Linked DNA regions of Homo sapiens. The protein of the gene in region 3 purifies or fractionates together with the protein of the main gene of each other region. This does not show direct contact. Each region holds a gene or a part of one and is shown on either strand. Other genes may lie near its edges. The genes, in order: SLC25A23, SFXN5, SLC2A12 and HOXD13.

What was found.
Region 1: the proteins of SLC2A12 (region 3) and SLC25A23 purify together in Homo sapiens (affinity purification with mass spectrometry; 2 studies listed by BioGRID and IntAct, with this or other methods). This does not show direct contact.
Region 2: the proteins of SLC2A12 (region 3) and SFXN5 purify together in Homo sapiens (co-immunoprecipitation; 3 studies listed by BioGRID and IntAct, with this or other methods). This does not show direct contact.
Region 4: the proteins of SLC2A12 (region 3) and HOXD13 purify together in Homo sapiens (co-immunoprecipitation; 3 studies listed by BioGRID and IntAct, with this or other methods). This does not show direct contact.

What each region holds. Positions count from the first base shown.
Region 1 is NC_000019.10:6,449,790-6,456,812, forward strand, and holds part of SLC25A23 (mitochondrial adenyl nucleotide antiporter SLC25A23), read right to left. Parts: intron 6,743-7,023; coding exon 6,631-6,742; intron 6,304-6,630; coding exon of another isoform or gene 6,163-6,303; intron 4,929-6,162; coding exon 4,770-4,928; intron 4,687-4,769; coding exon 4,534-4,686; intron 4,300-4,533; coding exon 4,192-4,299; intron 2,691-4,191; coding exon 2,523-2,690; intron 1-2,522. UniProt on the Homo sapiens protein: Electroneutral antiporter that mediates the transport of adenine nucleotides through the inner mitochondrial membrane. Originally identified as an ATP-magnesium/inorganic phosphate antiporter, it also acts as a broad specificity adenyl nucleotide antiporter.
Region 2 is NC_000002.12:72,956,710-72,963,732, reverse strand, and holds part of SFXN5 (sideroflexin-5), read left to right. Parts: intron 1-2,484; coding exon 2,485-2,602; intron 2,603-6,629; coding exon of another isoform or gene 6,630-6,753; intron 6,754-7,023. UniProt on the Homo sapiens protein: Mitochondrial amino-acid transporter. Transports citrate. Does not act as a serine transporter: not able to mediate transport of serine into mitochondria.
Region 3 is NC_000006.12:134,000,608-134,007,630, reverse strand, and holds part of SLC2A12 (solute carrier family 2, facilitated glucose transporter member 12), read left to right. Parts: intron 1-696; coding exon 697-819; intron 820-5,501; coding exon 5,502-5,634; intron 5,635-7,023. UniProt on the Homo sapiens protein: Insulin-independent facilitative glucose transporter.
Region 4 is NC_000002.12:176,088,077-176,095,720, forward strand, and holds the start of HOXD13 (homeobox protein Hox-D13), read left to right. Parts: upstream 1-4,644; 5' UTR 4,645-4,814; coding exon 4,815-5,595; intron 5,596-6,403; coding exon 6,404-6,654; 3' UTR 6,655-7,644. UniProt on the Homo sapiens protein: Sequence-specific transcription factor that binds gene promoters and activates their transcription. Part of a developmental regulatory system that provides cells with specific positional identities on the anterior-posterior axis.

The DNA.
Region 1 (7,023 bases), on a different chromosome or scaffold from region 3:
TCCCAAAGTGCTGGGATTACAGGCACAAGCCACTGCTCCTGGCCGCATCTTATTTCTACTCACAACTCTTTTTTTTTTTTTTTTTTTTTTGAGATGGAGTTTCACTCTGTCACCTGTGCAGTGCAAGAACTCGGCTCACTGCAACCCCCATGCCCCGCCCTGGGTTCAAGCGATTCTCCTACCTCAGACTCCTGAGTAGCTGGGATTATAGGTGCCCACCACCACGCTCGGCTAATTTTTGTATTTTTAGCAGAGCTGGGGTTTCACCATGTTGGCCAGGCTGGTCTTGAACTCCTGACCTCAGGTGATCCACCGGCCTCGGCTTCCCAACGTGCTGGGATTATAGGTGTGAGCCACCGTGACCGGCCTCTACTCATACCTCTTAATGGCTTCCTATTTTACTTAGAAGACCCTGTACCCTGCCCTGATCAGTCCCCCCCAGACACCTAAGACTTCCACTCCTCCAAAAGGCCGTATTTGTTCCTGCTTCCAGACCTGGGTACTAGATTTGTGCATGCTCCCTTGTGATAATACGCCCAACCCATGGCTTCAATGTCACCTTCTTGGAGGCGTTCCTCAACCCCCCTCCCGCCCACTGTTACTGAAGATGACAAATCCTGTCTTGTGATCTTCTGAGAGCTTTTCTAGGAGCTGAAACTATCTTATTTGCTGGTTGATTGCCTGCCTTGTTTATGGGAATGGGCATTCCAGGATGGCAGGGACCATGCTGGTCTCATTCAACACCACAACTGCCACAATCCGCACAGTGTCTAGCACAGAGTAGATGGTCAGTAAATAGTCACTAAGCGAATGAGTGAACAACAAAATGGAGGAACAAATGAATGAGTGAGCAACGGTCTTGTCTCATTTGGTTGTCTACATGCCAGGTGCTGGGGAGGGCAGGTAAAGATGGCAGGAACAGAGCCTATTAGATCAGAATCAGCTACATAATTTGCAGGATCCAGTGCACAATGTAAAAGGGTGGGGGTCCCTTGTTCAAAAATTATTGGCCAGGTGTGGTGGCTCACACCTGTCATCCTAGCACTTTGGGAGGCTGAGGTGGGGGGATCCCCTAAGGTCAGGAGTTTGAGACCAGCCTGGGCAACATGGTGAAACCCTGTCTACTAAACATACAAAAATTAGCCAGGCGTGGTGGCAGGCACCTGTAATCTCAGCTACTCGGGAGGCTGAGGCAGGAGAATTCCTTGAACCTGGGAGGTGGAGGCTGCAGTGGGCCGAGATCGCGCCACTGCATTCCAGCCTGGGCGACAGAGTGAGACTCTGTCTCGGGAAAAAAAAAAAAAAATTAAGAATTTCAGGCCTGGCATGGTAGTTCACACCTGTAATCCAGCACTTTGGGAGGCCAAGGCGGGTGGATCACTTAAGGTCAGGAGTTTGAGACCAGCCTGGCCAACATGGTGAAACCCTGTCTCTACTAAAAATATAAAAATTAGCCGGGCATGGTGATGCATGCCTGTAATCCCAGCTACTCGGGAGACTGAGGCAGGAGAATTGCTTGAACCCAGGAGATGTAGGTTGCAGTGAGCCGAGATCGCGCCATTGCACTCCAGCCTGGGCGACAAGAGCGAGACTCCGTCTCAAAAAAATAAATAAATAAATAAAAATAATTTCGAGACAGCAGTAGCAGAGCGTTACACCAAGCACAGGGCCCTTCCGAGCATGGGGCTCTCTGCGACTTCACAGGTCACATGCCCATGAAGCAGGCCCTGTCTTGCATACAAAGATTTTGGGGGGAACGCTTGGGGACATCCAGGACCATGCTAATTGGGGGAGACCTGGTGATCCCACTAGAAGGTAAAAGCAACAGATGAGGTCCCTGGAAGAGAAACAGCCAAGAACTGTCTGCACCTGCCTGTGTTGATAAAGGTCTCAAGATGCTGGTGATTAGGTGTGGTTCTTATGGTAACAGCAGATGCTCAAATGGGCAGGCCCTGAAGATGACATTGGCTTAGAGACCGTGGCTGGGTCTGATACTTGCTTCGGGGAAGTTGGGTGTCTTTGAGACTCATCTTTGCCTGCCTTTTTTTTTTTTTTTTTTGAGAAGGAGTCTCGCTCTGTTGCCCAGGCTGCAGTGCAGTAGCTCTGTCACCAGGCTGGAGTGCAGTAGCGGGATGTTGGCTCACTGCAACCTCCGCCTCCCAGGCTCAAGCAATTCTCATGCCTCGGCCTTTTGGAGTAGCTGGTATTACAAGCACACATCACCATGCCTGGCTAATTTTTGTAATCTTTGCCTGATCTTATGTTTGTCAGCTAGAGTGGTCCCTGACTTTCAGGTGACCCCGGAAGGCTGAGCTGCTAATCAAAAGTAAGTGGAGAAGTGGGAGAGTCCAATACCTGGAAGGGTTCCCCAGGATTCCCAGGGCCAAGGTGCTCCTCACCTCATAACTGCCTTTCTCTAACTATAGCAGGTCAACTGAGCCAGCCCCAGGGGAAGGGGAAGGGGTGTCCTGTGGGTAAATCCCAGAGGGGAGCAGGGAAAGAGGAACGCGCTGCCCACAGACCTCGTAGACGGCCAGGTCGATGCCCGCATAGGGGATGATGCCCAGCACGTTGGGGAGGTAGCCGCGGTAGAAGGCACGGGGCCCCTCCCTCTCCAGGATACGCCTGGCGCAGTCCAGCAGCCCCTTATACTGGCCCGTCCGGCGCAAGGTCAGCCGCGTCTTCAGCACCTGGGGAGAACCTGGTTATCCCTGGAAAAGCTGTCCCACCAAATCGCTACATCCAGGAATGAAGACACCTAGAAATAGCTACTCCTGAAAACAGATGCCCTGAGAACAACCGAATTTTAAAAACCACCTACTCTAGAATCTTCTGCTATCCCCAAATCCCTATACCTAGAAATAGTTACACCTACCAAAGTGCACACATGTGGCACCACCAGTAACTGTCTCCTGATATCTTTCTTTTATTTTTTGGTCATTTCTGTAGAGATGGGGACTCGCTACTTTGCCCGTGCTGGTCTCGAACTCCTGGGCTCAAGTGATCCTCCCCTCTCCATCTCCCAAAGGACTGGGGTTACAGGCATGAGCCATCATGCCCAGACCTCCAGTATCTTGTTCCCTTCTGCTTTCATATCAGAAACTGTAACTTTCAGCAAGCACACAGCCACTAGAAAGAAAAATGACATTTCCCAGATGCCCTGGGTATGTGGCTATGTCACTATGTCCTAGCCAAAGAAATAGAAGGAAGAGAAAGAGGTACACATAAGGTTCAGAAAGCATCCTTAGAGGTGGGGAGGTGTTTCCTTTTTTATTGCTTCTTCCTTCTTGGCTGGAGTGTGGAATGTGATGAACGGAGCACAAGCAGCCACATTGGTCCATGAGGTTGTGTAACAACAAGATAGACAGAAAGAACCTGCATCGCTAACACTCTGAAGCTACCATCCCAGCCTGAAATGCTCATCTGTAGACTTTGTTGATGTGATTGAAGTTTTTTTTTTTTTTTTTTTGAGCTGGAGTCTTGCTCAGTTGCCCAGACTGAGTGCAGTGACATGATCTTGGCTCACTGCAACCACCGCCTCCCAGGTTCAAGCCATTCTCCTGCCTCAGCTTCCTAAGTGTCTGGGATTACAGGTGCCCACCACCATCCCCAGCTAATTTTTGTATTTTTAGTAGAGACGGTATTTCACCATGTTGGTCAGGCTGGTCTTGAACTCCTGACCTCAGGTGATCCACCTGCCTCGGCCTCCCAAAGTGCTGGGATTACAGGCGCTAGACATCGCACCCAGCTGACATGATTTAAGTTTTCTGTCACTTTCAGAATCCAAACAATACACTTCATAACCTGAAACCTGAAATAATTTATCTGAAAACATGTAGCTAGCACAGTCTATCCTTAGAAGAGGCATATTCATAAACAGTTGGTGACACCTAGACACGACGTCCCTGGGAACGTGCACCCTATCCTTAGAAGATGCATATTTATAAACAGCTGGCTCCTATGACTACCATCCAAACAAGGATAACCGACACTACCTTCCCCAGAAATTATATCTCAGTTGTAATACCCAGACAGGCTACACATGAAATTGCATTACTCTGATGAGCTATACTCCAAATCAGAGAGGGACAAAGGTAAAATCCCAATGGATATTGTGAAATGCAGAGTGAGATGGGTACAGCAGGCCCCCCACCCTGCCATGGGGCCTCCGCTGGGGTCCCTCCTTCTCACCTCCATAGGGTAAATGATGGTTTGGGCTGTGGCACCAGCCAGGGAGCCAGCCACGAAGCGCTCCTGCACATGCAGTGTCTCCTGCTGCCCCAGGATGGCCCTCTTGATCTGAGGCGGGGAGACACAGGGATGGGTAGGACCATGGGGGTTGAACCTTCCTTGCACTCCACTGTTCTCCTGGCTTCCAAAGAACTGGCTTGCTGCAGGCATTCATGCAGAGGAGCAGATGCCTGATCCTGGGGACCTGTGTTCACCACCCACCCCCAAGCCAATCCCGTAAATCTTTATGTACAGCCCAGTCTTCCCTATGGCAAGCACATTCCTCCCTGTACCTGCCCTCACCTGTTCATAGGCCATGAACTTGATAGCTGACTCGGGGGCAATCTTGAGTACATTAATACCATTGCCGCGCCACAGGGAGCGGATGCCTCCCTCAAGGACCATGCTTCGAAGCCCCCCAAGGATGTTCAGCCGGTTGGTCTTTGAGGCATGGACCTGAATGGGGAGACAACAGCTTGGAGGTCCCCTCCCAGGTGTCAGGCCTGGGGGAGGGGGCAGGTCTCTCCAGAGCCCCTCACCTGCATGAAGACCTTGAGGCGGTCCAGAGGGGCCGTGCCTGTCCGTGACACGGCACCTGCCACTGCGCCGGCCACCAGCTGTTTCCACCACATGCCCGTCAGCTTCTCTTGCTTTGAGAACTCGTCCGGCACTGTCAGGCACTCGCCAATGTCCAGGACCTAAAGATACAGGTGTTGGGGGTGTCATGCCATGGTGGGGACAGGGAGATGTGACTCAGTCCTAAATAGGGGAGTCTCCTCTATGAATCCTAGGATACCCTAGAGTCTGCCAATGACTCTTGCTTGGAGACCCCAGAAGAGTCCTGTTGGGTCCTACCAGGTGTCACCAAAGCATCTAACCTAGCAGCCTCCTTAGAAGATCCCAATATCCTACTAAATCCCACCAAAGGATCTGCCAAATCCCACTAAAGGATCCTATTCAAGTATCTGCCACATAAAGATCCCTCCAGGCTAGATGTGATGCCTCACATCTGTAGTCCCAGCACTTTGGGAGGCCCAAGTGGGAGAATCCCTTGGGGCCAGGAGTTCAAGACCAGCCTGGGCAACATAGCAAGATCCCCTCTCTACAAAAATTGGCCGGGCATGTGCCTGTAGTCCCAGCTACTCAGGAGGCCAAGATGGGAGGATTGCTTGAGCCCAGGAGTTTGAGGCTACATTGAGCTATGATCACACCACTGCATTTCAGCCTGGGAAACAGAGTAAGACCTTGTCTGTAACAGCAAAAAAAGATCCCTCAGGGCAAATGAGATTCTACTGAAGGATCCCACTCAAGGGTTTTCCATATAATGATTCCAAAAGATCCCTTCAGGGCCATACAAGATCTTACCAGGCACCTCCCCTATAAAGACCCCAGCAGATCCTTCTCAGGGACCCACGAAATCTCACAGGGATCTCCTCCACATGGAGTCCCCGTGCAGGAATCATTTCCAGTCTAGAATTTCTAACCAAGGTCCCCATGAATCGTCTGGGGTGGGAGTCTCTGGATCTCCAAAGAGGTTCTCACCAGATCCCACAGACGGATCCCCCTCCAGATGCCATCAGATCCTACCAGACACATTGCTCATAGACATTTCACCCAGGAACTAGGGATCTAGAGCAAACCCCCACTACCCTCTCTAGTGGCTCCCATTGGATCCTCTGAAGACCGTGTTTTTTTTTTTTTTTTTTTTTTTTTTTTGAGACGGAGTGTGGCTCTGTCACCCAGGCTAGAGTGCAGTGGCACGATCTCGGCTCACTGCAAGCTCCCGCCTCCTGGGTTCACGCCATTCTCCTGCCTTAGCCTTCCTAGTAGCTGGGACTACAGGTGCCTGCCACTACACCTGGCTCATTTTTTTAATATTTTTGTAGAGACGGGGTTTCACCATGTTAGCCAGGATGGTCGCGATCGCCTGACCTCGTGATCCGCCCACTTCGGCCTCCCAAAGTGCTGGGATTTTAGGTGTGAGCCACTGCGCCTGGCCAAGACCGTGGTTTTTGAACGATTCTGTTCAGCCGTAGAATCTTTTATCCAGGCAGAGAACCCAGCAGAAGAGAGCTGTGTGGGTGGAAGGTGGGAGGCCTTGTACCCCATCTGGTGAGCTCTTTCTTCCCTGTACCCGCAACCCCCACACGCTGTCCCCAGAGGCCCCGATGTAAGTCTCAAGGGCTGCGCTTCAATCAGACAGCAGAGATGTCCCAAATGGGACCCTTGAACCCTAAGTGGAGGAAGAGAGGAACAGACCCTCATCCGTCAGCTGCTGCCAGTGCCTTCTCCTTCTGGAAAGTCCTGGTCCAGCCCATCCAAGCCCTGGGGAGATCGGAGCAAGGCCCCCCTGGGGAAGAGGGCACAGCCTTCAGCTGGGGAAAGCCACCCCCACCTCACCGTGGAATGCTTCCAGAAATACAGCACGTCCTCCACATTTTCCAGCGAATGCAACAGGAAGTGGTCGCGCCATTCTTGCCAGTCAATGGTCATTGTGCCGTCTCGGTCCATGCTGGGGGGAAGAAAGGGGGTGGAGGAGGACAGGTTCAGTGCCTGGGGGTGGGCTAGGCTGGGGTGAAGTTCTGCTAGGTTTTGCAGTTTGGGAGGTTCAAGTCCTCATATCAACCCTATTAGAGATGTAGCAAATATTACCATCATTTTCTTTTTTCTTTTTTTTTGAGACGGAGTCTTGCTCTGTTGCCCAGGCTAGAGAGCAATGGTGCGATCTCAGCTCACTGCAACCTCTGCCTCCTGGGTTCAAGAGATTCTCCTGCCTCAGCCTCCCATGTAGCT
Region 2 (7,023 bases), on a different chromosome or scaffold from region 3:
AGCAGGGGCACCAGGCTGGGTCTGAGTTGGCTCCGGGCCCAGGCCACAGCCCTGAGTCCGCTCCCCCAGCTTCCTTTACTCCCTGGGCTCCAGGTCTTTCCTTTCTCCCAGGCATTCGCACATCTCTCCATCTACATATTTTAACTCCCCCAGCTGCCTTTCCCTTCCCTCCTTGCCATTTTCCTCCCCCCTCCCTTCCCCCTGTCCTACTGTGTTCGCTCTCAGGCCTGCTCTGGGCTGGGGCTTCCGAGGCTCCTGTTTCAGCCTCAGGCCTGACTCCTTCCTGAGCTGGGAGCCCAGGCCTCAGACTTCTTGGACCTCTTTCCCACTGAGTACTTCAGCCAGCCACCCTGAGAGAGGAGCCTTGGTCACAGCCCCACAGAAAGGGGGTCTGTCTAGTGTCCCCACCAGCAGGTCCCAAGGACTGAGCCCATGGCCTGCTCTTCACTTGCCGGGGGTAGCGTCTCTCTTTCTTTTTCTCACCCTTCACTGCTCTCAGGGCTGTGGGCAGGGACCCTCGGGGCTGTGCTTCCAGGGACTCCACACCCTCTAGTCACTGCCACTGGAACAGGAGGGCAGCCCCGTCCTTCCACAGCCTCCTCCAAGCAGGGCCTCCAGACTCTGTATGAAGCTTGGAGAATGAGCCTTGTATCCCCCGCTCCTCATCTTGCTTGAGAAGTTCATCTCAGGGCCCTCTCAGCCTTACTCCCAGCCCCTCCACGACCCCTAAGGAAGTCCAGGCGGGCATGGGCTAGCATGGAGTAGAGAGAGAGGGTGGGGGTGCTGGATGGGGATTGGAGGATCAGAGGGGTTTGGGCTTGATTTAGGCACCTTGGTCCTACTGCTCAATCCTGTGGAAACTCCCCTTTCCAATAGCTTAATTCAGGCCGGATTTAGCAGCTGGACAAACCTTGCGGTCTGGGCCTGTGGGAAGGACTGGAAGACAGGTGGGCTACCAGGATCCTACCTTCCCGCAGGTAACATGAGCAATAACAACAGCAATAATGACACATAATTTCTGAGCACTTACTGTGTGCCAGGCCAGGGCTCACCCTTTTACTTGCATAGGATTTGCAAGTAATGGGATCTTTATTAATACCTGAGCAGGAACATCCAGGGCCAGGGTTTATCAGAAGTGTGGTCTGGGATCACCATTTTAGACTCATGGAGGGTTAAAATGCACATTTCCAGGTCCAGTGCCCACTGAATCAGGCTTTCATGGTTGTAAGCAACCCTTGGGCATTTGCATTTTTAACCAGTTGCCCAGTCCAGCTGATGCACTTTAACTTTTGAAAACTACTCCCAATTTTGCTGTCTTCTCAGGGCCAGTTGCTGTTGGGATTCTTGTCTCAAGAGGTGACAGTATATGGGGTTTACTGCCCGCCACATTGGGGCTCTGCCCCTAGGAGGGCCCCTTACCTGCCTGTGGCATGGTCAGCCCTGCTGGGGGCGGCGGATAAGAGCCTGGATTATTTCCCCTTCACACCAGGAGCCTGTCACTTGGAGGCTAACAGTTACTGAGGTCAGATTTAGTGCCTGCCCAACACCCCCTGGCAAATAGTCTAGTCATCCCAGGCCTCCCCAGGTGGAATGCTGTGGTCCCCGCTGAAGGGCCTGCTGTATTGAGCAAAACAGGAAGCTCCGATGAACACAGTGCAGGCACATTGGCCAGCTGGTATGTCCCCACGCTGTCTGGGGAGCCTGGGCCCCAAAGGGAGGTTTATCATGCCCCCTCCCCTGCCCAGGAAACCAGCTCCGAAGCCAGCCATGGGAAGAGGGTGCCAGCTGTGTTGTGTTGGTGATGAAGCTGGCACAGGGGACCAGCTGGGGTGACAGCACCCTCGGGGAGCCAGGGGTCCAGGCAGCAGCTCTGACAGCCTCCTGCAGACTTGGCCTTGGACGAGTCATTGCACCCTCTGTTGCCCTTGGGTTGAAATTGACAAGGTGGCCAGTGGGGTGTCTTCTGTTCTCACACATAGAGGAGGATCACCCCCTCCTGGCTGGCGTGTGCCCATATGTATGTGCTTTGTCATCTCCCCTGAACTTGGCACCTACTCTGGTTTCTTTGCTGTTTAATTACGTGCTGCCCTCGAGAGCGATCTTACGTCCCTATGTGTCTCCCCAGGAACAGGGGCCGACAGCCTCTTTGAGTGTCTCTCCCACATAGGGCCTTCTTGGCACGGGGCTGGACGCGTGGCGGGTGGGTGCCCCGAAAGTACTCATTCGTGACCTGAGTAATTGAGGTTTCAGCCAGCAACGTCCTTCAAGACATTGGGATAGGGGTCTATACCCGCTGGGATAGGGGTACCTATCGGGAAAAGGTCCCAAAGACAGAACTCTGCTATATCTGTTTAGCTGCACACTGGCACTGCCCCGGAACCACGCTTCCTGGGCCCAGAGACAGAGTGGGACCCAGCATGGTGGCTGGCAGCCAGCCCACCCCACCTTCGGGTCTCATGGGGCTCCCTCCTCTCTCCCTCACAGGACGGCTCTCCTGCAGGCACGCCCCCGGCTGCTCCTCCCTGTGCAAAGCCTCGTGTGCCTGGCAGCCTTCGGCCTGGCCCTGCCGCTGGCCATCAGCCTCTTCCCGCAAATGTCAGAGGTCAGTGGGGAGGGGCTCAAGGGCAGGGCAGGGCAGGGGGTGCTGTTTGGTGATTTCTGAACAAATACTCATACCGTGCCGACTCCTTAGCGCCATGCTAGGCGCTGGGGCTGGAACCGTGAATGAGGCTGGCCCAGGCTCTGGCCCTCAGAGTGAGGGTCACGCAGTCAACAGGGTGATTAAACAGAGGCCAGCAGATGAGGAGCCAGGAGCGTTAGGGTGGGAGAAGCTCCACTGGGTGTGGAAGGAGACAGCAGACCAAACTGAGCCTAGAGGGAAGTGACATTTCACTGGGACTGGGAGCGTGGCTGGAGTTGGCCAGATGAAAAGGGGTGGCGGGGGGAGATGTGAGGTCCGCGGACACCTGGTGTGAAGGTTCTGAGAGGTGAGGCAGCACACGCCATGTCCAAGAGCTGACCAAAGTCTGCAGCGCAACCAGGGAGTGCAGCAAGGTGATGTGGCCTGGGAATGAGGGGCTGGGCTGGGTGGTGTTGGGAACTTGGAAGCCAGAACAGAGAGGGTGAATGTCCTCCTAAGGGCTGTGCAGGGCAGACCACAGATGCCTGATTCTGAGCGGCCCCTGTGCTGCCGCGTGGGGCTGGGTTAGAGCTCCAGAGAAGGAACCATCAGGAGCCTGTGGCGGGCATCCAGCAAGCGGTGATGGCGGCTTGGACCAGGCTGTTGGCAGTGGGCATGGAGAGAAGTGGGTCCCTAAAGAGGGAGTCAGGAGGCGGCTTCTTCGGGATTCGATGAAGAGCTGTATGTGGTGGGAGGGAACGGGAGCCAGAGGATGTGCACTGGCTTTCTGGTTTTGAACAACCAGGCAGATGTAGGTGCTTAATGAGATGGAGCCAGGCGGGGGCAGGTTCGAGGGAGGGCAGTGGGTCAGTTGGATGGACACGCGGGGTTGAGGAGCCTGTGGGATGTTGGCTCTGGGTCTGGAATGAGGAGAGACGCCTGGGCTGGAGGGATAGAAGTAGAGCCTACCAGCATGACAACAGTGCTGGAATCGAGGGTGGTGGGTGAGGCCTCCACCCTGGCGGGGTCCAAAGACAAGCAGCCAGGGTGGTGAGGGCAGATCCGGGCCATGTGTGATCAGGGTGGGTGGGGGGCATCCACAGGGTCAGACCCTCCTGAGAGGTCACACTCCATGAGATTACAGAGTATCCATTAGTGTCTCAGGCAACGTAGCCAAACCCTGTCCCCAGAGAAGGGATCCAGGTGACAGGTGAGGGGAAAAAATGAGAAAGACAGGTCCACAGCCGCAACAAGATGTGGGATCAGGAGGGGCTTTTATTTATGTATTTGTCCTTGTTTTAAATGGGAGAGACAGGGGCTTGCGTAAATGCAGTAGAGAAGGCACCAGGAGAGATGTCGAGGACGCTGACAGGACGATTTTGGGAAAGTCTATGAAGAGGAGGGGGGACCAGAGCACAGACGAGGGGATCAGCCTTGGCACGGGGAGACCCCTCCCCACTTCAGTAGGTGGAAGAGGAGTGGGGTGGGAGGAAAATGCTGCTGGGGGTAGGGTTCAGGGGTAGGAAAATTGAAGAAGTTGTTCCAATGGCTCCTGTGTTCTTGTGACTGAGCAGACAGGAGAGAGTAGGGTGGGGAAGGGGCAGGAAGTCAGAGGTCTGAGGACACAGAGAAGGGGTGAGACATCCAGGGGAGAATGAGAGGTGAGGAGGCTGAGCAGCACGTGGTCTGGGAGTGCAGCCGGGCCTGTTCACCAGGAGGTGCTATGGGCCAGTACAGGGAGGGCCACAGATCCTTTCTTCTGGGGTTTTGTCAGGTTGGGGGTGAGGGGGGCTGAGAGATGGGTGACAGCACGGAGGAGCAGAGGACCACGGGATCCACGCTGGGTTGGAGTGAAGGTGGGAGCTAAGCTGAGGGGAAGGCACAGACCCAAGAGGGCCCAGGAGGTGTCTGCATTGAGCTCACAAGAAGGCGAGGGCTGTGGCCAGAAAGCGGCGCTTCTGAATCTGTGATTTCACCATGGACCTGCTTCAGGCAGGGCCCCAAGAGAGGTGGAGGAGAGGTGAGGGCTCCTGGAGACAAGTCGGGGAAGTGAAAACAAGAGGCCGGGGCTGTTGGGGCTGCGAGGGCTGGAGACCCAGGCTCTTAGAGCAGGAGGAGGGGGTGACCCGCCTTAGGCCCTGGAAGGTGAGAAATGGGGTGGCTTCCTTCCAGAGCCCCAGAGTTTGAGGAGGAGACTCTGTGGGAGTGGGGCTCCTGTCTTGGGGGACACCATTCAACGCACACCAAGATTAAAGCTAGCAGGACCTCATCTCATGCCCACAGCGGCCAGCCTTGTCATGGGTGCTGGGATGCTCCTTCCCCCACCTCTCACCCTGGGAAACCTGCAGCCTGGGACTCCAAATGGAGCCATGGGCTCTGGGTTGCCTAGTAGCCCTGAAGAGGGAAGGCGGGTATTTCTCAGTGGTCTCTGACATCCCTGTCCCAGCCCAGCACTCCCTGAAGCCATTGCATCTGTCTGTGCAATCAGCCTGAGCCCAGGGTCCTAGGCCAGGGCCAGAGTCACCCATGTGTTTATAGGTACCTCTGTGCTTCTAGTAGCTGTCATAACTCCACCTGCCTGCACAGAGAAGGGACCCAGGGCAAAGAAAATACTGATGCAGAATCAGAGACCCTCCCAGTTAGAAGGATTTTCAAGGTCATCCAGTTTACCTTGCTACTGACTTTGCTGGGGAAATGGTGGCCCAGAAAAGCCATGGGACCAGCCCAAGGTTGCAGAAGTCAGGTGCCGATAGGAGAGGAAACACCAGAGGTCCACACTCCAAGTCCAGGCCCCTAGGAAGTGCTACACCTGATCATTTCCTGTGGCTGAGTTTCTCTCCCTAGTCAACCACCTTACCTACCTTGGGACAGCCAAGAGAAGAGGGAGCTGGGGGCTGCACTGTGGTGGGTGGTAGGAAACGGTCTAGAAGAGCTGTAGGTCTTTGGCAGGTGTTCCTCTGGGGCATATAATGGGGAGATGCCTACCATTCACCCACCCAGGCCTCCAGCTCTGGCTGCAAAGCAATGATGGAAAGTGAGCCACCCTGGTCTCACAGCTGCTGCAGGTCAAAGCCCAGGCTCCCCTCTCCCCACATGCCTACTTCAAATAGACATGGGAGTTAGTTCTTCTGCATATTTAACCAAAGTCCCTCTTATTGCAATCCAAGCCTCTTTCTCTAGATTGGGAAGAAGATAGTCATTGCATGTTAAGTCTTTGTTCCTCTGGGAAGGGAGGGTACAGGCATGATTTTCAGAGCTCCCTCCTCAGCTATGTGGATCCCAACAAGATGCAGGCTAGCCTGGGCATTATGGGGTGTTTTGAGCCCTGTTTGGGACCCATGGCACCAAAGCCTTCAGCCAACTTGCCGAGAGGGCCTTGTTTCCGCATTCACTCTCCCAATTAATTCTCCCTAACAAGGTGCTTCTTCTGCCATACAGGGATCATGTCTCACATCCCAGAAGCCAGTGGGATTTGCCACAATAAGTCTGGACTTGCTTGGGCTGACCCAGCCTTGCCAAAAGCCACCAAGGTTGTCAACAGAAGTAATCACTGGAACACCAATTAACTAATCAGGGGACTCGGAGGTAGAATTTAGGAACTAGTTCCTAGAGTGGCTGGCCTGCAGTGATTGTTGTGGAGTTTCCAACTCACTAACCCCAGAGATTGAGGCAAGGACTTCAATCCTTCCTTCAGTTCCTGGGGGAGAGTTTTATCTGCTCTTTTCAAATTAGTAGTTCTGCTTATTAAAATGGTACTGAGGGTCAAACTGCAAATAATAATAATGGCTACCATTTGCCAGATATCTATTGGACCAGGCAGCATGCTGGGAGCTCGGTGTACCTTACTGTATTAAGTCTTCCTAATGCCCCTTAAGTCTAAAACATTGAACATCAAGAGATGATTCCTAGACAGTCAGATGGCTCTGGGGAGAGAGTTTGGCTGGAGATACGGAACCTTCAGTGTATGGGGGGGAGTTGAAGCTGAGAAAGGGGATGTGGTCCACTATAGGAGGAAGAAAAACCATCAAGAAGGGGAAGAAGCAGCCAAGGGCACAGGGAGAACCCAGATGGAGTAACTTCATGGAAGCTGAGGACTTGGGCGATTCAAAGAGGAGGGGCTGTCTCCAGAGTGGGTGAGTGCAGAGGGGACTAGGAGTGGAGGAGACTTAGGTGGCATAGCTAGACATGGCAGTCTAGGAGGCAACATGGTATTCAGTTTCTTCTTTGTTCAGATGATTGAGCTCAAAGATGGGGAACTGTGGGAGAACAGCAAAGAAACTGTGAGATGGAGGTTGGGGGGCTTGGAGAGAGGGCAATGATGGGGAAGGAATGCCCAGAGCCCAAGGCGGGAAGGCATGGCCTCTATGGAGTCCCTGGGTCCAGTGAGTAGAGGGGGCTACCTG
Region 3 (7,023 bases):
CATAATGTTCCCTGTCACTCTCAGATAATAAAAAGTCCTCTGATGAGTTTTGGTGCCAATAAGACTCTCCTTCTAGAAATTCAAATGTTTAGTCTGGTACAATAATCAAATCTTGGAGCTCTATTTAATTTAGAACTTCTCTCCATCCAGCTTGCTTCAGGCCAGGACGCCCAAGTCAGAGAAGGGAGAGTAGCCGGCTTCCTCATGCCCACCTGGCTCCATTTCCTACCCACTCATTAGCTGTGATTTCTGACTCCTCCAAGGTCAGGGGGAGAGAGCTGAGGAAACAGCCCAGTCCTACAGCAGGTACACCTGGGCTCTGGCACTGAGGCTTCTGTGCTTGGCAGATGTCCAGAGCTGGCTCTCTTGTTGCTGCCAGGCAGGTGGCCCCACCTCTGCCCCTGCGGTTTGCATTTCTTGGGCCTGTGACAGATACCAGCACCTCATGCCCCTCACCCTATGCATGGGGACCATGGCCCAGCTCTCCTAATGTTTCTGTGAATCCTTTCTTCCTTGGCTGGAGGTGAGGAGGCAGCACGTCCCTTTACTGTCCTGTTCTGCTGAGGTAGGAAATGGTGCTTCCCAACCACAAATCCCGGCAGGATGAGGGCAGGGAGAGATCAGGGTGCTGGCACTCAGATTCAATGGGTTTTTGCTAAATGTGCTGTCCGCCACCCACTCTTGCCTTTCTTCTAGTGCCCTGGCTGGTGCTCAGCGAGATCTTTCCTGGTGGGATCAGAGGACGAGCCATGGCTTTAACTTCTAGCATGAACTGGGGCATCAATCTCCTCATCTCGCTGACATTTTTGACTGTAACTGGTAAGAAGTCTTTGTTTTCCTCTAATGTCTTTGGTCCTCGTAGGACAAATGTTAGGGAATCACACCCACCTAAAGACCATTTTTTCGTGGAAATTTTCAAACACACTTAGAAGGAGAACGGCCATGACCCTGAAGTACCCATGACCCAATTTACAGTTTTGAATGTAAATCTATTTATAACCCCACCTGCTCTTCCCCTACCCAATTATTTTGAGTCACATCCCATATGCAATGTTGTTTTTTCTGAAAAATTTCAGCATAGACCTTTGACATTCAAAAACATATAACTACAATGTCATTATCACACTTAAAAATATAATCATCCCATAGTATCAAACACCTAGTCTGTGTTCATGTTTTAATTGTCTTATAATTGCTTTTTATACATGATTTGAATCATGACCCAAATACATAACTTACAAGTCACTGAAATATGTCATAATTTGTAGGTTTTGTCTCCATCTCCTCCATCTCCTCACCCCCACTATACCTTATATTTTTAAAGAAATTAAAAATCTATTAAAAAACAAATGATTTATTTCATAGAATTTTCCAGTCTGAATTTTGTTGATTATAGTCATGTCACGTGCCCCTCTCTGTTTCTCTGTTTTTTTTTTTGTTTTTTTTTTTTTTTTCCGATAGTCTCTCTCTGTTGCCCAGGCTGGAGTGCAGTGGCATGAGGCATGATCTCGGCTCACTGTAACCTCCGGCCCCTGGGTTGAAATGATTCTCTTGCCTCAGCCTCTGGAGCAGCTGGGATTACAGGCACACAGCATCACACCCAGCTAATTTTTGTATTTTTAGTAGAGACAGGGATTTCACCATGTTGGCCAGACTGGTCTTAAACTCCTGACCGCAAGTGATCCACCCACCTCAGCTTCCCAAAGTGCTGGGATTACAGGCACGAGCCACCACGCCTAGCCCTCCTCTCTGTCTTTTATGTTTCTTGTAAATTGCTATTAGATTTAGATAGAGGCTTGAGGAGAAAGAGAAACCAATCCACAATAACAAAAGTCATGTTTAGGTGTCAGGCAGAATTGCTTGTAATAATAACAAACTTTTATTTTCAAAAGGGATCTCATCAAATTTAAGGATAGAGAGCAGCAGAAGGGAGATTCTTTTTTTTTTTTTTTTTTTTTTTTTTTTTTTTTTAAGACAGAGTCTCACTCTCTTGCCCAGGCTGGAGTGCAGTGGTGTGATCTCGGCTCACCACAACCTCCATCTCCCAGGTTCAAGTGATTCTCTTGCCTCAGCCTCCCAAGTAGCTGGGACTACAGGTGCGCACCACCAAGCCTGGCTAATTTTTTTGTATTTTTAGTAGAGATGGGGTTTCACTTTGTTGACTCAGGCTGGTCTCGAACTCCTGACCTCGTGATCCACCTGCCTCAGCCTCCCGAAGTGCTGGGATTACAGGCGTAAGCCACTGTGCCTGGCAGGGAGATTCTGTAATAAGGTCAGGCTCATTGTTACTTTCCACTGAAGCCTGAAATTCAACTGCATTGTATAGAAAATTTGAGGATCCCTATGTCGGAAATAAGGCAAGGCATAAAAAAATGTTACAAGCAAAACAAAAAATGGCTGTTTGTGTGTTCCATTCAGCAGCCCTATCTAAAGGAACCACAAATTAGATTTATATATTATAATAAAATAACCCAATATTAGGGATCAAATCAGAAACAGAAGCATTCGCCTTGTTTTCCTAGCTCCAACTTGTAAACATGAAGAAAGTAAGAAGGGAAACCCTTTGGGGATTACAAAGAATGATAGAGCTAAAATAAATAAATAAAGCCTAAATTTATTTTTTTAAAAACGATAGAGGCTTGAGGAGATTTACATGTCATTTTTTGGTGAACTCTGTGGCAGCTGCTGCCGTGTGAACTGCCAACAGGAGGCACATGAGGTCTGGTTGTCTCGCTGTTTGTCATTGTTGGCCTCCTTTGATGATCATTTCCCAGACCTACTCATTATGTCATTCCTTCTCCATTTTTATCTGAAATACCTCTCTAAAGAGAAATTTCTTCTCATTAGCTATTTGGCTATCCTGAAGTGTGGATCATATAAGAAAGGTAAAATACGTGCTTGAAACTTTCTCTTTATTTTCTAGTTTTCAAAATAATGTGGCAGTTCCCCAGTATCCACGAAAACTGACCAATGAGTCGGTTTCTCTTTATTTCATATATAGATGAGGAACATGCAGCATGACTACAATCAAGAAAATCCAGACTGTGGGAAGTTCTATGAAACAAATAACCTAATTTCTTCATTTCATATATATTGTCTTTATAGATACAATTTTCAAAAATGGATGTTTGCTGAAAAGCATGCATATATATAAACACATATATACACATATACACACACATACATACATATATATTTAGTATATCCACTTTTGGAAATTAACCTTTGGGGTTACTATTTAAGCGTGGTTTGGGTTTTTATATAAAATTTTCAAATGTTCCTATCCTACCTTTTGAGAAGTAGCTCAAGATTAAAGGAAACAAAGAAACTGGTCCTACTCAGATCACACACATAAACACATGCCCTCAACCTTCACATGTGCACACACGTACTCAACACACACACACCCTCCATCTGCTATTTGATGTGGAGAAAGAGAAATATAAAAGAAAAAATGGAATTGATGAGGGATGGAAAAGATGACACACATCTCTGGGAGGGCTATAGCTAATACACTGGAGGAGCTAGTGAAGCTTTAGAAGTTCCGTATGGGCTTTTAGAACAAATGTAGGAAAACAGATCCACTTAAAAACAAAAAGCCTAGAATGCTCTAAAACCTTTAGATGACATTTAATTGGAATGCTTGACATTTCCTACTTATTTTCAAAAATAAATTTTCCAAGTGTAGGACACAGGGATCTAAAAGACGTGAGGTTCTACTTGGCAGTAAGCCCTTAAACACCAACATTTTTTATGCAATTTCAGCTGTATCAATAAAAGCAGACTGTTCCAGATAGACAAATGTACTCTGCAGTGATCATGACACAATTGTAGCATTGCATTCAGCTCTGAGTAAAACATCTCGAGAGGGCCATTTAAAAATTGCAGTGTGTTCGCTGAAGGAGGGCAACCTGAATGGCGAGGGCAGTAACCTATGCTGTGGGAAGAATGGTTGAAGAGCTCAGGATGTTTGACTTGGACAAGGGGATTCTCAGAGGAGGGCTGAGGTGCATTCAAATATTTGAATGGCTGTCACGGAGAAGGGGTGGGGAGAGCTGATTCACTGTGTGTCCTTCCACAGGACAAAGCACAGCCTCTGAAAGGCAGATTTAGGATCTAAGCAAGGAATAACTTTTTAGCAGACGCAACTATTTCACAGGGCAGTAAGAGGCTTCGTGAAATGGTGAGCTCCCTGTTACTCAAAGTGCTCAAACAAAACTGGGGACAATTTGATGAGACAGCCTTTAGGGTTTTGACAATTTCTATATTCTGGTTTTAAGCTCCAGAGAAGGAAGGACACCCAATTCTACAAGGACTTTATTAAGCAATCAGTTGGGCCATACCCTGTGCCAGCTAGAAAAGCAGAGAGAGACAGGAGTTTAATTAAAATTGCCAAAAGAACTGCAGTGCGGTTCCTCCTTCCTGCTTCTCCCAACCTCAGCACAACTCACCGACAAGTAGTTACTATGCTTCGATTCTTTCATGCTGCATTTACAAACACTGCCTCAGTACACAAGTGCTCAGTCAGTTTTCCTGCCTGACCAACTGTGGTTTGTGGCTGCAGCTGTTAAAGGCTATTTGTAAAATCTTGTTGTTCGTAGTTGACTACTCCTTGCCACACTAGACATTCTGCTGCTGAGTCAGGGGCCGCCACAATGCAAATGGCAGCCTCAAGTGCACTGTGGGGGCCACTGCTGACCACTGAATGTGCCTTGACTTGGTCCATGACTACAAAGGGACTGTATCTTTGGCTGGAAGCGGTCAGAGGAAAAACTAGGTTTGCAGATGAGAGTCATCAGAATCTTGAGGATCCTGCTTCTTGTGATGCATCTTGGCAAGTTGATGGCTTTTACTGGATCCATGATCACTTTTTTCTCTGAACCCAGGAAGAAACATTACAAATACACTGCAAGCTATTAAAAATGATGAAATATTGCCAGCATGAAATGATTTATTCACATCAGAGCAAAGAAGGGTGAGCTCATTCCAAGAAAAATCCATCTGTACAAATGTCATTAAAAATGTCCACCATTGGGAATGATAGCAAGAGGGGGAAAAAATTGTCCACCGAACAGAAACTAAACTGCTACCATGGCGATTCCCAAGAGGGGAACTGTGGAGAGGGAGAAGAGAGATTTTACCTTCTACATCATATGTTTCCATGTTATTTGAGGTTCCTTTTTTGCATGTGCTTTTTTATATTAATAAAGACACATTGCCATTTTGAAACAGAAAGACATGCCCACCAAGAAGATGACATTGGGTGTAAATTGTGATAGTTACAAGACTGCTATTTTCTTCAACAGAGAAAACTAAGGTAGTCTGTAAAAGTAACACCTTCAGAGCTGGCTACATTTTAAATTTGTGATTTCTATTTTCCTGGATACTGCTGGCATGTTTGAAAATACATATGGTGCTATGTATGCCCTAAGTGGCTGTTCACAAATGGGATCAAAGCTACACAAAACACATTTCTAATCAATTTCTTTTGTCCTTTATAGATCTTATTGGCCTGCCATGGGTGTGCTTTATATATACAATCATGAGTCTAGCATCCCTGCTTTTTGTTGTTATGTTTATACCTGAGACAAAGGGATGCTCTTTGGAACAAATATCAATGGAGCTAGCAAAAGTGTAAGTATTACATGCATTGGTTTCTGAACAATACTCTTTGGTCAAAAGTGCAGCTTTTATATACAGCAAAGGAATAATATCTGAAATTATTAGATATTATTAGATTAGGACATTCCCTTTAGCGTAAGACTATGTCTCAGTGCATAATTCCAATTTCCCTGCTTTGTCTTTAATTTGGGTGATTCAGCTAAGGAAGAATAACCATTTCTTCCCAATGAATGAAGCTTTTTTTTTTTTTTTCAAACTACAAAGTGAATGTATTTGATTGGCAAGTGCAAATTTTCACTTATCAATGAAATATTGTACTGAATTTGAATAAAATCTTTACAATTGGAATGTTTTTTAACGTTAGCCTTTTATAATTATCATCAAACTGTAATGCTATTATTCATTACTATGACCAACCAATATGTACGTACAAGGTTACAAGTTTTTTCCTTTTATACGAAACAAAAACAAAAATACATCATTGTAATTAAAAAGCATTAAACCATATTTTCCTTTTTTGTAATGTAATAATTTTTACTAGAACAAAGTTTAATATTTTCACTGTCTGCATTTCTTTTCGGAAAAAGAAACTGTTACTATTGTTGTTTTACCTGATTTTTTCCTGAAACTAATTTTGTTGTACAGAGGATGTGAATCTTCTGTGCTACTGATTAAAACTATCTCATTTAAAAAACAGTTTATTTCCATAGGTTTTTGGGGAACAGGTGATATTTGGTTACAGAGTAAGTTCTTTAGTGGCGATCGTGAGATTTTGGTGCACCCATCACCGGAGCAGTATACATTGAACTCAATTTGTAGTCTTTTATCCCCCACCACCCCCCAATGCTTCCCCCACCCAGTCCCCAACCAACGGGTGAACATTTTAAAGCTCTACTCAATCACCATCTCAGAACTTCTTCCGCCTCTCTAGCTCCCCCCAACAGGTTTTCTTTGTTTGGGGTTTGGGGTGGGTCCCGGAAGTGTAGATATACCATGTTCACACTGGGCTAGGAACTTGGGTCTCAGCCTTTCCATCTCTATCAGACTTAGAGCTCCTTCTCTGTGCCCTAAACACTTGCTAAGGCTAAGATTAGCAGAAAAACTCTCAGGCTTAACCATCTACCGTTGTTCTAAATATTGCACATTTAAGGTAATTTTAAGAAAGATAAGTTTCTTATATGAATAGGCTTTTAGAAAACTGGTTTAAAAAATTTCACAAGGAGAGATTGTTTAAACAATTTAACTTAGAAGTGAAACATTTAATTTAGAAGTGAGTGGCAGAAAATTCCCTTTCCTTTTTTAGTAGCTCTAATTGCCAAAACCATGTCCTGGGGGAAGAGGTGAGACATAGGGGCTAAGAATGAAGCAGAACTTGTTACTCTTCCTAGGATTACGTCGTTC
Region 4 (7,644 bases), on a different chromosome or scaffold from region 3:
GGGGCCGACAACTTGCGGTCCCGCCTTGGGACGCATGCTTGCTCGAGAGCTGGGGCTGCAGGGTGCAGTGGGACAGTAGGACCGCGAAAGCCTGGGCTTCGAGCCTCGGGCTCCCTGTCTTCAGGCGAAGTGCGGTTTCCACGGGTGCAGGTTTCGCTGCATAAGGGAAGACTCAGATTTCGAGCCCTCGGCAGGCCAGCTTCTAGCTCTCTGTCCCTTCCGGGTCTCTCCGGTTGCTTCTGTCTTTCCTCCTCCCACTCCCGTCGCAATCCCGCGCCCCACGGAGGAAGGTCGTGGTGCGGGAGTTGGGGGATACTTTCTTCCTGGGCTCGGTCTACGCAGACCCATCGCCTGCCTCGAGTTCCTGTGCCCTCAGACGCCACGGGAAAACTTGCAGGGACATCTAGCGCCAGGCGTGGGGAACTGCGCGCCGCCGGGCCGGGAAGTGGAGCCGAACACTGCCCCTCCGCCTCCCTTTCGGCTCCCCCCTTCGTGCTTGGGCACTTTCCTCACCTTCATCCCTTTGCCCTGCCGGTAAGGACAATGTGGATTCCCCATAGAGACAATGGACTCTGCGGAATGGAGATAGGTAGGTAGACAGACATTTTCTTTTATCTCAAGCTACCGACAGAGTGAGAATTTACTGGACTTCCCAGTAGTTTTGCTAGGGAAGTGTATTCCAAGGACAACCCCTCACCTTGAAATGTCGGATAAAACTTCAGCAAATTAGGGTCCCAGCTTTTATTTTCCAAAAAAAGGCAACAAGTTACTCTGGGCCTCTGGCTCCTGCCCCACCCTCCTGCGTCCCTTTCACAGTGAGATTAGTGCTTCTCTTCAAAGGAAAGAATCCTCACTGTGTTTAATTTTTTCCAAGGCTGGAGAAGTTCTCTCCATCCCAAAGAAGGGCCCGCTGTCCTGCATGAGGCAAACCTGGTTCCACCAAATAATGTTTCTGATTTGGAGGGGGTTTGGAACTGTTGTTGCTGCAAACGATTTTCATTTGATAAAGCCTAATCGTGTTGTGAAACCCAAACGGAATATGTCTCAAAGGTAGAAAGTACTCAAATGTGGCTTCCACTGTCTAGCTGTTGCTAGGGTCCCCTTTTTTCACAATAGGTTTGGTTTGTTGTTGTTGTTGTTGTTGTTGTTTCTTTTGATATCTCCAGGCTGAGTAAAACTGGGTGTTGCCTGGAGAGGGAAAATTAGCTCCAAAGTTGGCAGAACACAGATTTGGTTAAGAACACTGTCCAGCCACTTCTGCTAGACTTAAGATTTTACTTTGGAATTAAGACTCTATTTCTACACCAAATATTTGGCTTCTTACAAGTTAATTAGGAGGGTGTCCTGCACTTCCTGATCTTGGCCATCAAGACAAGTGCTTTCAAAGGAGTCCCCAGGACCCCACTCTGATAGAATCCTGTGATCCTGGCCTTAATGGCCACTGATTATGTGGTTAATTGAGCTCATTGCTGTCTTGGCAAGCAGAGCAACTTCAATAAATCTAAATCACAGCCTGTATCTGCCCATTCCCCCAAACCAGGACAAGAGCAAAATTTGAAAGATCATCTACTAGGTTGAAAGGAGAGAATATGACTTCCAGAACAGCACTGATGCTTAAAAAGGATGCCTCTGGAAGAAAAGGAGGAAGAGGAGCAAGTGATGGGAGAATACAGTGGGACTTTGGGCACCATAGGGTCATCCTGAGTTTTTCACCAAAATCAGGAACAGCGGCAAAACTGGTTTCACTGAAGAAGACACACGTTTGGAGACATGTGTAGTCTCCAAGGATTCTCACTTAACAAAGCCTATTTCTGTTGTTAAAAACCCCTGCATAATGCACCCACACACAAACACAAGGCTTGGTCTGTGTTCCTGGCCACCTAAAGAAACTGATTCCCAGTAAGTTTAAACCTGAATGAAATGTTTCTGCAAATTCAGCCTCAAAATTCCTCCTCTACCTGGCATCCCTGGCTTGTAAACTATGTGTCTCATTAGTTCATAAACAAAGCAGCCCTGACTTTGCCTTGTACTCAACCACAGCCCTAGGAGCCAGTAGAATTTGTCCAGAGGTGCTGGGCTTTGGAGCCCAAGTGGACAAAGTCAGACCCCCTTTCCTCAGGGCAAAGCCCTCCCACAGGGCTGGGACCCCAAAGGCTATGCTGGAAGCAGGTTCAGCAGCAGGATATCAAGGGGCAAAGCTCCTAATTCAAAATCTTCCTGGCTTCTGAACAACCATTAGGATGGACAGAGAAAACTTTTGCCCTGCTCTGAGAGGGTCCCACAGGGCTTTTGGAAGCAGAGCCACCATTGAGAAATCCCTTTCAACCTGAGTAGTAATTCAGATTTTTCTCCCACTCCTGCACAACTTAATTTGCTGAATGGAAAATTCAGCCAGAAGTGATGGGCTGCTTGAAATCAACAAAACTTGACACATTCTTCCCATTTTCATTTTACTTTATTGTTAAACACATAATTGATCATTAAAATGTACTTATCAGTGAGAAAATGAAGCAGAAGCCCAAGGCACAAAACCACAGGGATATTTAATTTTAAGAGACTGAAAGTTTGTTGGTTCTACTTATATCTTAGAAATATTTCAACGAATTTGTTTTTTGGAGTCATAAAAAGTTAAAACTATCTTCATGTTTTCTCTGTCTGAGGAAGAAAAAATGAGACAAAGGGAAAATAAAAGCATTTCATGGTGGCCCATGGTTGGTGGTTTGGTACCAAAATTGTTTCATAAAGACCCAGCCAAACCCTCTTTAAAAGTTAGCAATCCTGTCGCCTCGCCACAGTTGGCCTTTTTAAAATGCTGGTTGAACTTTCATTGCTGACTTTTGCCTTCTTTTCCCAAATAGTGAAAAAAATTTTCTCATCAGCAAACTTCTATTCCCTATGATTTCCTGTAAATTCAGGCCCCTCCCATCTCAAATTTGATCATGAACATGTCTAGAACTTCAAAACGATGAAACGAATTCTCTTGCTTTTCCTTTCCAACACCCCTCTCATAACTTTCCCCTTTATTTGAGCCTTTTATGGTTACTGCGTTTTGCATGTCAACACTCCTAACACCAGCAGCCTACCCTGAAATGCCAGGCCAGGCCAAGGAGGGCCTTCCTGGCTCTCTTCCTCATCTTACTCAGGGCATCTTTGGTCGGGGAACAGTGGTGCTGGGTGACAAGCTTTCACCAATCACAGGCTTAGGGGAGTGATTTTCTTGGAGATGGGCTGGCTTGGGGAGTGCATGCCACAGAACCAAATGGGCTCTGAAGGATCCCATATCCACCCCCAGAACCCTGGGCTCATTGGATCTAATATTGTTCCTAAGGCAGAGCCCCAAAGTCACAGCAGGACTCTCATTGGTGCCCCATTAGTTGCTGAGATTGAGGGATGGTGGGCTGGAGCTCTGAGGCTGAGGAGCAACAGAAAGGGATGATGAGGGACAGGGCTGTAATCCCTAACACCCTGGCAGCTTGGTTCCAGAGCTGGACCTAGCCCCACCAGCACTGCCCTGAGCCCACCTAACCCCTTGAAGTCAGACCGTTTCTCTGGGCTGCTCCTATCACAAAATCCGAATTTGCTTGGAACAAGCGCCCTCTTAATTTGCCCCTCTCAGTTCTCTGCAGTTGACAGCTTGGAAAAGGAAGCGAAACAAAGGTCCCTGGGAAAGTGAAGTTTTCAATTAATTTGGTGTGAGAAACGGGCGGGAGTGGGTGGTGACTGCAAAATGCGAGGCCGGTCGGCTGCTGGAGAGACACAGAAGTTTCACGGTGGGAGGCTGAGTGGCTTTCTCCCCCGGCGCCGTTCTCAGGGTCTTTCTGCGGGTCGAAGAAGGACCCGCGGGAGCTGAGAGGCCCAGGTCGGAAGCACTCCCGGCTGGCCCAAGAGTAGAGGCGAAGAGCGTTGAGTAGGCATCCATGGACTTTTCTTTCTGGGACAGATTGTCAGGCTCACTGCGCCGATGCCTGTCTTTCATCTGTTTAAGTCTCTGCCGCCAGCCCCAAGGGCGCTTCATGGGCATTTTCCGAACGGACAGCGTGTGTGTATAGGAAGGGTCTGCTCCAATGCCTCTTACCTGTGTGAAATGCCTTTGCCGGGTACCAGTGCACAAGGTAGGGCAAATTAGCTCACTCGGATTTGGGGTCTAGAAGTCGACTAACTGAGGGATTCAGCAACAGGATAAAAAAATGGGCCTGTTTTCACATCATTCTGATCATCTCTGTCCTTCGTCTTCATTTTGCTGTGCAACTCGGGGAGCCGAGGAGAGGTGGCAAAAACAGCGGTTGCCGAGACAAGGCGCAGGCCTTGGCGCCCGCCTCAGTCGCAGACAGGGCCTGGGATGGGCCGTCGCGCAATCAACTCGTGGGGGTGGCTGCAGCGCGTACGCCTGGGTCGGGGGGGAGGGCGGGAATGGGAGGTGGACCCTGCAAGGGGCAGGAGAGGGGTGGGGGCCGGAGTGGGTGGGTCCAGCCAGGCCTGGGCCGGGAGCCAGGCTCCCCCGCGTTCCTACCCCCACGTGGCCGCGCGCAGCCAATGGCACGCCCCCGGCGGGGGCCCTCGGGGCGGGAGGCGGCCCCCCGACCGGCCCAGGCCCCCTCCCAACCTGAACTTCGTTTTTATAAACGTCCCGCGATGAGCTAACCTGTTGGAGGGCAGGCGGGCCGGAGGCGGGAGGCTCACAGAGGGAGAGAGGGCTAGAGGAAGAGGGCGGGAGCGAGCGAACCAGAGAGAAAGGAGAGGAGGGAGGAGGCGCGCCGCGCCATGGTGTCCTGCGCGGGGCCAGGGCCAGGGCCGGGGCCGGGCCAGGCCGGGCCATGAGCCGCGCCGGGAGCTGGGACATGGACGGGCTGCGGGCAGACGGCGGGGGCGCCGGTGGCGCCCCGGCCTCTTCCTCCTCCTCATCGGTGGCGGCGGCGGCGGCGTCAGGCCAGTGCCGCGGCTTTCTCTCCGCGCCTGTGTTCGCCGGGACGCATTCGGGGCGGGCGGCGGCGGCGGCAGCGGCGGCTGCGGCGGCGGCGGCGGCAGCCTCCGGCTTTGCGTACCCCGGGACCTCTGAGCGCACGGGCTCTTCCTCGTCGTCGTCCTCTTCTGCCGTTGTAGCGGCGCGCCCGGAGGCTCCCCCAGCCAAAGAGTGCCCAGCACCCACGCCTGCAGCGGCCGCTGCAGCGCCCCCGAGCGCTCCAGCGCTGGGCTACGGCTACCACTTCGGCAACGGCTACTACAGCTGCCGTATGTCGCACGGCGTGGGCTTACAGCAGAATGCGCTCAAGTCATCGCCGCACGCCTCGCTGGGAGGCTTTCCCGTGGAGAAGTACATGGACGTGTCAGGCCTGGCGAGCAGCAGCGTACCGGCCAACGAGGTGCCAGCGCGAGCCAAGGAGGTATCCTTCTACCAGGGCTATACGAGCCCTTACCAGCACGTGCCCGGCTATATCGACATGGTGTCCACTTTCGGCTCCGGGGAGCCTCGGCACGAGGCCTACATCTCCATGGAGGGGTACCAGTCCTGGACGCTGGCTAACGGGTGGAACAGCCAGGTGTACTGCACCAAGGACCAGCCACAGGGGTCCCACTTTTGGAAATCTTCCTTTCCAGGTAGGGGCGATGGAGAAAAGGGACCGACACGAGGGAGGGGGAGAGAGAAGGAGAAAAGAAAGGACTAAGAGTATGCGCCCCTACTTGGGAGTGGGAGTTGTGCCTGTGCTCCACACGTGACCAGGGTTAACCCAGTGGAAATTTGTCCAGTTCGTGTGAAATCTGTAAATTCCTCCTCTGATTTCAACTGCCTCCGTCACTGCCCTTTCTTTCCTGTGTGCAGCGCAGACACGTTTTTCTCCTAAAGTTGAGAGTCTCTGCGTGCCCTTTCCTTGGGCCTCTCCCTTTTCTCCTAAAGAGAACTTTTTCCTAAGAAACCTGACAGAGTTGGGTCCCCCCATTTTCAAAGACATCACTGCCCCAAGATGACTACTAAAGCTTGTTAGATCAAGCTCACGAACTCCTAACATAGGAACGCGGGAAATCAAAATTTGAGCAAAAGACCTGAGTTGGTATGTGTCTATGTATGTAAGTTTGTTTTTATACAACCGACATTTGCAGAAACTGTCCTCATGAACGTGCCCAATAACCACACCATAAAATTGCAAGCTTGTTAAGATGCCGGTTTGAGAAACTATGATAATCAATCAAATTAACCATTGTTGTTAAGTGCAAATAATCCTTCTTTAATAACAGGTAAGTGTTATGTCTATGTACATAATAAAGACCAAACAGCATGGCATTTTTTAAAAATTTCCTGCACCCCTGCAAACGCACACACACACACACACACACACACACACACAATCCTCAGCTAGGTGCTCCGAATATCCCAGCCTAATTTTTCTTGTGCTTTTGTTTGTATCAGGGGATGTGGCTCTAAATCAGCCGGACATGTGCGTCTACCGAAGAGGGAGGAAGAAGAGAGTGCCTTACACCAAACTGCAGCTTAAAGAACTGGAGAACGAGTATGCCATTAACAAATTCATTAACAAGGACAAGCGGCGGCGTATCTCGGCTGCTACGAACCTATCTGAGAGACAAGTGACCATTTGGTTTCAGAACCGAAGAGTGAAGGACAAGAAAATTGTCTCCAAGCTCAAAGATACTGTCTCCTGATGTGGTCCAGGTTGGCCACAGACAGCTTAGAAGCCATTCGGTTGTCTCCAAAAGGCCTTTGGAAAGACTTGAATATGTATTTAATTCCCCCCACCCCCTGCCAATGGTGGCAAATTTTGTGAATTGTTTTTCTCTCTTCCCCTTATCTGGCTCTAAAACCTTCTGCTGCCCAACCTGACTTTGTAGTTCTGATTTTTACTTGTTTATTATTGGTTTTGTTCTTGCCTAGGGTTTTTAAAATATCTGTTTTTAATGTTTTGTTTCTCCCTCCAGGCCAGTATAAAGGGACTTGAAGTATTTTTTAATAATCCGCCCCCCAATGAACTTCAGAAGTGCCATTCTGATTTAAGGGTTTTTTTAAAAAATTACTTTATTTGTTCATTCCCAGCACTGATTATCTTCATAATCCATTAGGACAGAATGGTTTTCAGTCGTTCATATCCTGTAATTAGGTAATTGAATCATTAGCTCTCAGCAGTTGCCCTGAGGCAAGTGGAAAGGCAGGCAGTGCTCTGGGGTCACCGAGAAAGTCTAAAAACAGGAGGCTGAAGGTACTGTGATGGCTTTAAAAATGGCCACCTTATTAAATAGGGATTGTATCAATATTGAAATGAAGACAATCTTTCCAACTTTGGGTGTTTCACTTGCTGTTTTAATTGTTTGTTTTTAACACTTTGTAGGTTTGTGTTTTCATAATCTTTAATTTGAAACTCATGTGTCCTCATGGATCGTGGATGCCTTCATTTCTTGAGCTCTCAATGCAGACATTTAAATGGCTGCAATCAGTAGAGTGACCCGCGGATGGCATAAATGCACCTCCTTTTCTTGGCCTTGGATCTATGGGTCTGGGATTGTGGTCATCTCCTCAATCCTCAAAAAGAGGCTGAATCAATGTGGCCGTGGGTGGGAACTTACATACAGAACCCAATGAAGAACTTGACTGTCTAAACAAGGGGGCCTCGCATGGAGCTGTAAAGCATCTAACAAATA